Linked DNA regions of Homo sapiens. The protein of the gene in region 2 binds, or shares a complex with, the protein of the main gene of each other region. Each region holds a gene or a part of one and is shown on either strand. Other genes may lie near its edges.

Region 1 (3,500 bases), on a different chromosome or scaffold from region 2:
CAAGATCTTGCCACTGCACTCCAGCCTGGGCAGCAGAACCAGATCCTGTCTCTGGAAAAAAGATAGCAGCAGTCACCCCTAGGTGTTGGGATTGGAGGTGATCTTATTTTCTTTTTATTTTTCTGACTTTTCTAAATCTCTGATAAACTTGCAATTAAAGAAAAAATAACAGAAAATGTGTTATATGCAGTATTATTGGAGGTACTATTAATATTTGCAAGTGTTCAGACCTAATTGCGGGGAAATGATGGCAGGATTCTACAGGTATATTTTAGAGCAGTTGTGAGATGCATGTAACTATTTGTAAAGGTTCATACAGATGATTACTAGATCAGCATAAATAATATGTCTGTGGACGTTTTCTGCAGGACTTTGATAACTTGTTACCTGAGTGAAATTTAATTCCTGGGCGATTCTGGGAGATGGTAAAGTGAGGCGGAAGGAGCCAGCGGCCAATTCCTGAACTATTCTGGGAAACGGTGGCGTGAGGCGGAAGGAGCCGGTGGCCAAGGTCCCAGTAGTGTCACATGATCTTCCCGCGTGTTTGCTGCACTGGGAAAAAATGTTGAAGAATTAGTTTGAAAATTGCCCCGTTGGCCAGGAGTGATGGCTCACTCCTATAATCCCAGCACTTTGGGAGGCTGAGGTGGGAGGATAGCTTGAGCCTGGGAGGTCGAGGCTGCAGTGAGCTGATTGCACCATTGCACTCTAGGATGACAGAGTGAGACCCTGTCTCAAAAAAACAAAACAAAAATTGCCCTGATCCACACAAATTCTTGGTTTTGTTTTTATAAATGTGCTTCTATAAAATGAAAGCCAAAGTGTTCTGTTATTTCAGTTTTTTTTTTTAATCTCCTTTTAGGTTAAAAATTTTGCAGTTATTTATCTTGTGGATATTACAGAAGTGCCTGACTTCAACAAAATGTATGAGTTATACGATCCATGTACTGTCATGTTTTTCTTCAGGTACGTTATCTTAAAGTTGTTACTGAAATTGAATATTGTCAGTTTGGAAGCTTAATGTAATCAAGATCTCTTTAGATTATTTTATTTTGAAGGAAGTTGGTTGTACAGTCATGTCCCAAAATCGTTTGTATCACCAGGCAATCAGTGTGAATCTTTGAAATAATTTTCAAAGTAACAATTCTAGTTTTAGCATTTACTCAGTAACAAATTACCCTTTTGAAATAACTTTGCGGGGAAACCTAGGTGAAGTGTAATTCAATGAAAGATGTTGTTACTGACATTTTAGATACCTGGAACTATAATCTGTTCATCAAAAATGTTGTAAAATCACAAATTTAGGCCGGGCACAGTGGCTCAAAGCGCCTGTAATCCCAGCACTTTGGGAGGCCGAGGTGGGTGGATCACAAGGTCAGGAGTTCGAGACCAGCTGGGCTAAGATGGTGAAACCGAGTCTCTACTAAAAATACAAAATTAGCCGGGCGTGGTGGTGCATACCTGTAATCCCAGCTACTGGGAGGCTGAGGCAGGAGAATCACTTGTACCCAGGAGGTGGAGGTTGCAGTTAGCCGAGATCATGCCATTGCACTCCAGCCTAGGCAACAAGAGCAAAACTCCGTCTCAAAAAAAAAAATCAAAAACCTAATTTATTAAATATGTTATCATCAACTTCGGTGTCCTTTTTTATATCCAAGAGGAACACCTGAACTACTTTGCTTATAAATACAAGATTATTTTATCAGCTCAAAAATTTCATTATGGAAATTTAATGGGGAAAGAAATCACCATCTGATGCTGTTTTTACTTGTTTAGTTACCATAGAGGTTGGTGAATTAGCTACATGAGCATTAGACCATTCTCCAAAAGTGGAGCCTCCTACTCGGTAAGGAAGGTCAGGTGGGTTGTATAGGGTATGCGTTAGTTTTGTATTCTTTGTAACAAATTAGCACGCATTGAGCAGCTTAAATCACCCCGCTTTTCTGAGCTCACAGTTCTGTAAGTCAGACATCCAGGCAGGGCCCGCTGGATTCCTGCTCAGGGTCTCACAAGGTCTGAACCATGGGCTGGGTGCTTATCTGGAGTGTTTGAGGGGCTTGTTTGGGTTGTGGGCCGAGTCTGGCTCTTCGTGGTGGTGGGTCTGAGATCTGCTTCCTTGCTGCTGTTACCTGAGGCCACTCTGCTGCCAGAGACCCAGTTACCCTCAAAGCCAGCACTGGCATGCCGGCACATTGAGAACTTTTCACACAGGTTCTCTGACCTGAAAAGTTCTGCCTGAGAAAATGCTCTGGTTTTAGAGGACTGTGATAAGATTAGACTTGCCCAAATAATCCAGGATAGTGACCTTGTTTTATTTATTTATTGAGATGGAGTCTCACTCTCACCCAGGGTGGAGTGCAGTGGCACCATCACAGCAAGCTTGAACTCCTGGCTTCGAGCCATCCTCCCGCCTCAGGCTGCCAAAGCGTGAGGCACTGCCGTGGTTCTGGGCGTCGGGATACGCTCCCCTGGACACGCCCTTGGCTTCCTAGGTGCCTCCTGTTAGGTTGAGAAGATCTGTGAGGTGCACCCTGCATTTCTTGTGAACTTTTCATCTTTCCTAGGTTTCAGCAAAGGTTGCGTGGCTGACCCTCATCCTTTTCTCTACTGTGTGTTCAGCAGCCATTTCTGAATTTCAGCCCCTTTGGCCATCCGGAGAGGCTAAAGAATTTATTCCTTTTGTTAACAGTTCTTACACTAATTTGCCTCTTTCCTCTCTTGAAGGCAGCACCTCCGAGACTTTGCTTGGAAGTTTCCGCAGCTAAATATCCCGAGTGTGTTGCTTTTGAGCTCTGACTTCCTATAACTGCGGACCCCGTGTCCCTGTTCCTCGGCCACTCTGTAACGGGGGTCCCCTTTTCTCCGTTTCCCAGTAACACACTCCTCACTTCCTTCCAAGCCCACACCAGGTGTTCCTGAAGTCCATATTTCTGTTAACAGCCTGTTCGAGGCAATAGAGGCCTTTTCTATTTTGCCCCTCAGAATTCTTCAGGTGAGAACAGGGAGGGCCGTCTTAGGTCTCTGCCCCCCACAGCGTGCAGTGGAGGCCAGCCTGGGGCTGGAGATGCTGTGAGGGGCAAGGAGGCTGCAGGCAACAGCCTTGGGTGGCGGGAGCAGCCTACTTAGTGTAGTTTGATATTTTTAGGACTGATGCTGTACTCAGAAAAGGAGATGAAACTTCCTTCTGCTGTTTCTGTGATTTAGAATTTTAAGACAAACGGTACTTTAGTTAACTTATGCACCAAACATATATCTTGAGCCCCCACCAGGTTTGTGGTCTAGTGGTGGAGCCTAATGTCAGATAAGACAGGATTCCCACTCTCATAGGACGTTGTCTGATAGAAACAGCTGAGTAAATTAGCAGGGGGTTCTGAAGAAGTGAAAGGAGGCAGATGTTTATGAGATATAAATACCGAAGAAGTACACCCAGGTCAGATAGGGCTGCAGGGAGGGTGCTACGGGCAGCCCCCAGTCATTGTAGAAGGAGCTTGGTGCATGCT
Region 2 (5,965 bases):
CAGCCAGACACAGTGGCACACACCTGTAATTCCAGCACTTTGGGAGGCCAAGGTGGCAGGACTGCTTGAGCCCAAGAGTTTCAGACTAGCCTCGGCAACACAGTGAGACTCTGCCTCTCCAAATAATTAAAAAATTAGCTGGGCATGGTGGCATATAGCCCCAGCTATTCAGGAGGCTGAGTGAGCTATGGTGGTGCCACTGCACTACAGCCTGGACAACAGAGTGAGACCCCCATCTCAAAAAAATAAATGTGGAAGACGCTTTTGGGAAGAGAATACAATTGATCCCATCTTTCTAAAGGATAATGAGGTAACAGGTATCAATATTTTAAATGTACTTTTTTTTTTTTTTTGAGATGGAGTCTCAGTCTGTCGCCCAGGCTGGAGTGCAGTGGCCTGATCTCAGCTCACTACAACGTCCGCCTCCCGGGTTCATGTGATTCTCCAGCCTCAGGCTCCTGAGCAGCTAGGATTACAGGCGCACAACACAACATCTGGCTAATTTTTGTATTTTTAGTAGAGATGGAGTTTCACCATGTTGGCCAAGCTAGTCTCAAACTCGTGACCTCAGGCATCCACCCGCCTCGACTTCCCAAAGTGCTGGGATTACAGGTATGAGCCACCGCATCTGGCCTAAATGTACATATTATTTAAAGGACTGTACAGATAAGTACAGGGCCAGGTGTGCTGGCTCATGCGCGTAACCCCAGCACTTTGGGAAGCTGAAGCAAGAGGACTGCTTGAACTCAAAGAATTTGAAACCAGCCTGAGCAACAAAGTGAGGCACTGTCTCTAATTTTTAAATAAATAAATATTATTTTAAGAAAGAAAGTAGGACTAGGCGCAGTGGCTCACGCCTGTAATCCCAACACTTTGAGAGGCTGAGGCAGGTGGATCACAAGGTCGAGAGTTCAAGACCAGCCTGGCCTAGATGGTGAAACTCCATCTCTACTAAAAATACAAAATTTAGCCGGGCATGGTGGTGGGCACTTGTAATCACAGCTACTAGGGAGGCTGAGGCAGAGAATTGCTTGAACCCAGGAGGCAGAGGCTGCAGTGAGCCGAGATTACGCCATTGCAGTCCAGCCTAGGTGACAGACTGAAACTCCATCTCAAAAAAAAAAAAAAAGAAAGAAAAAAAGCTGGACAGAATCATATTTCAGTTGTGTCACTTACTAGTTTTGTAGACTTGAACAAGTGGTATAGCTGATCTAAGCCTCAGTTTCCTCGTGTAAAACAGCAATAGTATATATTACTTAGCAGTGTTTGAGAAATCAATCAATAAATGTATTCAGAATAGTGGTTAGTCAATACGTCTTCGGATATTATTTTTCTTTCTTTAAGCACCTATCATATAACTGGCCTATGCTAGGTATTAGATACACTACATGGTTTCACCATGTTGGCCAGGCTGTTCTCGCTCTCTTGACCTCGTGATCCACCCGCCTCAGCCTCCCAAAGTGCTGGGATTACAGGCATGAGCCATCGTGCCCGGCCTATGGCCTGTTCTTTTTTTTCTTTTTTTTTTTTTTTTTTTTTGAGACGGAGTCTTGCTCTGTCACCCAGGCTGGAGTGCGGTGGCACCATCTTGGCTCACTGCAAGTTCCGCCTCCCAGGTTCACGCCATTCTCCTGCCTCAGACTCCCAAGTAGCTGGAACTACAGGAGCATGCCACCACGCCTGGCTAATTTTTTGTATTTTTAGCAGAGACAGGGTTTCACCATGTTAAACAGGATGATCTCAATCTCCTGACCTTGTGATCCGCCTGCCTCGGCCTCCCAAAGTGCTGGGATTACAGGCGTGAGCCACCGCGCCCGGCCTGGCCTGTTCTTTTTTTGAGACAGAGTCTTCCTCTGTCAACCAGGCTGGAGTAAAGTGATACAATCATGGCTCACTGCAGCCTTGACCTCCTGGGTTCAAGTGATCCTCCCACCTCAGCCTCCCGAATAGCTGAGACTACAGGCATGTACACTACACCTGGCTAATTTTTTATAGAAATAGAGGTCTCATCACTATGTTGCCCAGACTAGTCTCGACATCCTGGACTCAAGTGATCCTCCTGCCTCAGCCTCCCAAAGTGCTGAGATTACAGGTGTGAGCCACCATGGCCAGCCTAGTACTTACTTTTTTTTTTTTTTGAGACAGAATCTCACTCTGTCACCCAGCTGGAGTGCAGCAGTGTGATCTCAGCTCACTGCAACCTCTGCCGCCCAGGTTCAAGCGATTCTCCTGCCTCACCCTCCCGAGTAGCTGGGATTACAGGCACCAGCCACCGTGCCCGGCTAATTTTTGTATTTTTAGTAGAGACAGGGTTTCACCATCTTGACCGGGCTGGTCTTGAACTCCTGACCTCGTGATTCGCCCACCTTGGCCTCCCAAAGTGCTGGGATTACAGGCATGAGCCACACGTCCAGCCCGTGAGCCACTGCGCCTGACCTGTATTTACTCTTTAAACTATATATTGCTTTGTATTGTTTTCCAATACACGATACAATCTCTAAGCTTATCTGTAAATTTAAGGCACAAGGCATTTATTTATTGCTAAATTTTAAAATTTTTCTTAGAGATGGGGTCTTGCTCTATTGCCTGGGCTAGAGTGCAATGGAGTAATCACTGCTCACTGCAGCCTCAAACTCCTGGGCTCAAGCTTTCCTCCTTCCTCAGCCTCCCAAAGTGCTGGGATTACAGGCTTGAGCCACTGCACCCTATCCATTTATTTCTTCTGTACATCTTCCACCTCGCCTAGCCCTGAAATATTTCTCAAATTAAAGAGGTTCCAGGGCCCTGGGCACACCCACCCCCAACAGACTTGTTGGAACAGGTACCTACCTCAGGTCATTCTTTAGTTCCACGACCACATCCTTGCCCACAAGGGACTTGAAAAAAGAATAGAAGAGCTATTGGGAGAGAGGGGGAAAACCATCATGTGGGAAGGAGCATGGTAGGGAGGAGTGTCCTTTGACAGTATTACCAAATACTGGTATTGTGAACCCCACTGCATCCCTGACAGTTCTCAAAATTTCACAGGAAAGAATAATTGGTTGACAGAGCTGAAAGGCTGGAGCCCAAATTATTCTGCACACTGCACTGAGCCCATCACTTAAAGTCCCAGAGAGACTCTGCCCTGCATACGTCGGCCTCCCCACTGTGCTCTCTCAGTCGACCACCTTTCTCGGGTACCTGCCCACTCCTTTCAATGAATTGTAGAAAATATCCCACCCGCACCCTGCCGAAGCTTGCCTGGCAGAGAAGTGCTCTGAGGTCTAACTTTTCCGTCTCCCGCTATCCTCACTGAATCTCTCTCAGGGTTGGGGTTTTTTCCCTCATCATGGAAAAAATATCCCATTTGTTCTCAGTGCCTCCTCAATGAACCTGAGAAACAGTACAGTACTAAAGATGAAGATAAAAACTCCGGACCTAACTCCAGCCTAGGGGTACAAAGGCCAGATCCCCCGCCCCAACCATGCGAGGTCCCCGAGGGCGCCCCCTTTTGACGTCACGGTACCCACCATGGTGCTGGCGCCGCGGGCAGCGGGCCGGACCGGGAAGACAGCAGGGTGCTGCGAGCAGGTCTGGGGAAACCGAAGCGCGAGCCCGCGCGTGGGGCGAGGCGGGACCGCGCAGGCGCAGCGGGAAGCGACGCAGAAAGCTCCAAGCGCTGACGGGCAAAGCGCGGCCGACTTGCGGCTGGGGAGCGCAAGCTGGGTAGAGTAGAGGGGAGGAGGAAGCCGGGAAAGGGGCGGGGTTTCCTTCATTCCGACTTCCTCCCTGGCCGGCCGGCTCCCATTGCGCAGGCGCGGACCCTAGCCTGGGCTGCCAGACGGGTGGCGGGACTCAGCGCCTGAGCTCAAAGGATTTTGTTCTTTTCCAGAATCCTGCCATCTACAGCGTGATGTGTTTGTGCCCTACACACACTTCCTATCGAGAATTGTGGGGAGTTTGTTAAGATTATGAAGTGTGCACTTTTCTATATTTGTTAAAGTAAAAACATAAAATTTAAAAAATAAAATTAAAAAATGTTTTGAATCTTAAATTCAGCTGATAAAAAGAAAAAAAGGCCGAGGGCCGTGGCTCAAGCCTTTAATCCCAGCACTCTGGGAGGCCTAGGTGGGTGGATTGTGTGAGGTCAGGAGTTCGAGACCAGTCTAGCCAACATGGTGAAACCCCATCTTCACTAAAAATACAAAAAAAATTAGGCGTGGTCGCAGGCTCCTGTAATACCAGCTACTCGGGAGGCTGAGGGAAGAGAATCGCTTGAACCTGGGAGGCGGAGGTTGCAGTGAACCGAGATCGCGCCACTGCACTGCAGCCTGGGCGACAGAGCAAGACTCCGTCTCAAAAAAAAAAAAAAAAAAAATGACCGGGAGCAGTGGCTCACACCTGTAATCCCAGCACTTTGGGCGGCCAAGGCAAGTGGATCGCCTGAGGTCAGGAGTTCGAGACCAGCCTGGTCAACATGGCGAAATTCTGTCTCTACTAAAAACCCAAAAATTAGCCGGGTGTGGTGGCACGCGCCTGTAAATCCAGGAGGCATAGGTTGCAGTGAGTGGAGATCTTGCCATTGCACTCCAGCCTGGGCAACAAGAGCAAAACTCCATCCCAAAAAACAAAAAATGTTGAGGCCTGTAAATCCCAGCATTTGGGGAGGCTGAGGCAGGAGGATCATTTGAACCCAAGAGTTACAGTGAGCTACAATCTCCCCACTGCATTCCAGCCTGGGTGACAGAGCGAGACTCTCTCTAGAAAAAAGAAAATTATAAACAAACAACGTTGAGCAGTCCCAGAGATAAGGAGGAGCTGGAGCACAAATTTTGATTTTATCAAAGGTTACCAATAAATACATTTCTCCAAAGGAGCCAACCTCAATCTCCGCATTTCTTACACACTTTTGCCAAGACTGTCCTGTAAAGGACTGTGTAAAACTAAAGAGACTGTGGCTCACAGATACAAATAACCCAGTCTAACATTTCACTGTTAAATGTTTCAAACACAAACAGACAGAAATGCAGTTACATATTATTCTAACTCATATCCCCCAGGTTTTTATAAATATGTATTAGGACACAGGTAAAAGAAAAAAATGTTTTTGAGATGGAGTCTCGCTCTATCACCAGGCTGGAGTGTGGTGCCACGATCTCAGCTCACTGCAACCTCCACGTCCCGGGTTCAAGCGATTCCTCTGCCTCACCCTCCTGAGTAGCTGGGACTACAGGCACGCATCACCGTCCTCAGCTAATTTTTGTATTTTTAGTAGAGACGGGGTTTCACCATGTTGGGCAGGATGGTCTCAATCTCTTGACCTCATGATCCGCCCGCCTCGGCCTCCCAAAGTGCTGGGATTACAGGCGTGAGCCACTGTGCCCAGCTGGTAAAAATATTTTTTCATGGACTGAGACTTCATAAAACTTGTATTTGTCATCTTGCATAGACATACTTATTTGTCAAGAGTTTGTTATAGAAATATTTTCTGGGGCTGGGCACGGTGGCTCACGCCTATAATTCCAGCACTTTGGGAGGCTGAGGTGGGTGGATCACCTGAGGTCAGGAGTTCAGAACAGCCTGGTCAACATGGTGAAATCCCGTCTCTACTAAAAACACAAACATTAGCCGGGCATGGTGGTGAGCGCCTGTAATCCCAGCTACTCATGAGGCTGAGGCAGGAGAATCGCTTGAATCTGGGAGGCAAAGTTTGCAGTGAGCCGAGATCGTGCCATTGCACTCCAGCTTGGGCGACAAGAGCGAAACTGTTTCCAAAAAAAAAAAAAAAGAAAAGAAATATTTTCTCCATGTAATGGATGTAAACAATGAACTCTGTGAGTGCATAGATGCTGAATCTCCTGGACCTTACCTATAAGTGACATCAGGACATCAAGCAGGATTTGTCCCTCCACCCCCAGTTGAGTCCTAAACTCCAAAACCAGCTTGTAACTGATTAAAAGCAGTTATAGTTTGCCATCTGTTCCAT

Evidence for each region. Proteins that work in one complex are often made in the same cells at the same time.
Region 1: LSM2 (region 2) and TXNL4A share a complex: the UniProt entries of both Homo sapiens proteins name them as parts of the precatalytic spliceosome.

The regions. Positions count from the first base shown.
Region 1 is NC_000018.10:79,975,064-79,978,563, reverse strand, and holds part of TXNL4A (thioredoxin-like protein 4A), read left to right. Parts: intron 1-862; coding exon 863-966; intron 967-1,776; exon of another isoform or gene 1,777-1,846; intron 1,847-3,500. UniProt on the Homo sapiens protein: Plays a role in pre-mRNA splicing as component of the U5 snRNP and U4/U6-U5 tri-snRNP complexes that are involved in spliceosome assembly, and as component of the precatalytic spliceosome (spliceosome B complex).
Region 2 is NC_000006.12:31,803,246-31,809,210, forward strand, and holds the start of LSM2 (U6 snRNA-associated Sm-like protein LSm2), read right to left. Parts: upstream 3,722-5,965; 5' UTR 3,513-3,721; coding exon 3,510-3,512; intron 2,898-3,509; coding exon 2,830-2,897; intron 1-2,829. UniProt on the Homo sapiens protein: Plays a role in pre-mRNA splicing as component of the U4/U6-U5 tri-snRNP complex that is involved in spliceosome assembly, and as component of the precatalytic spliceosome (spliceosome B complex).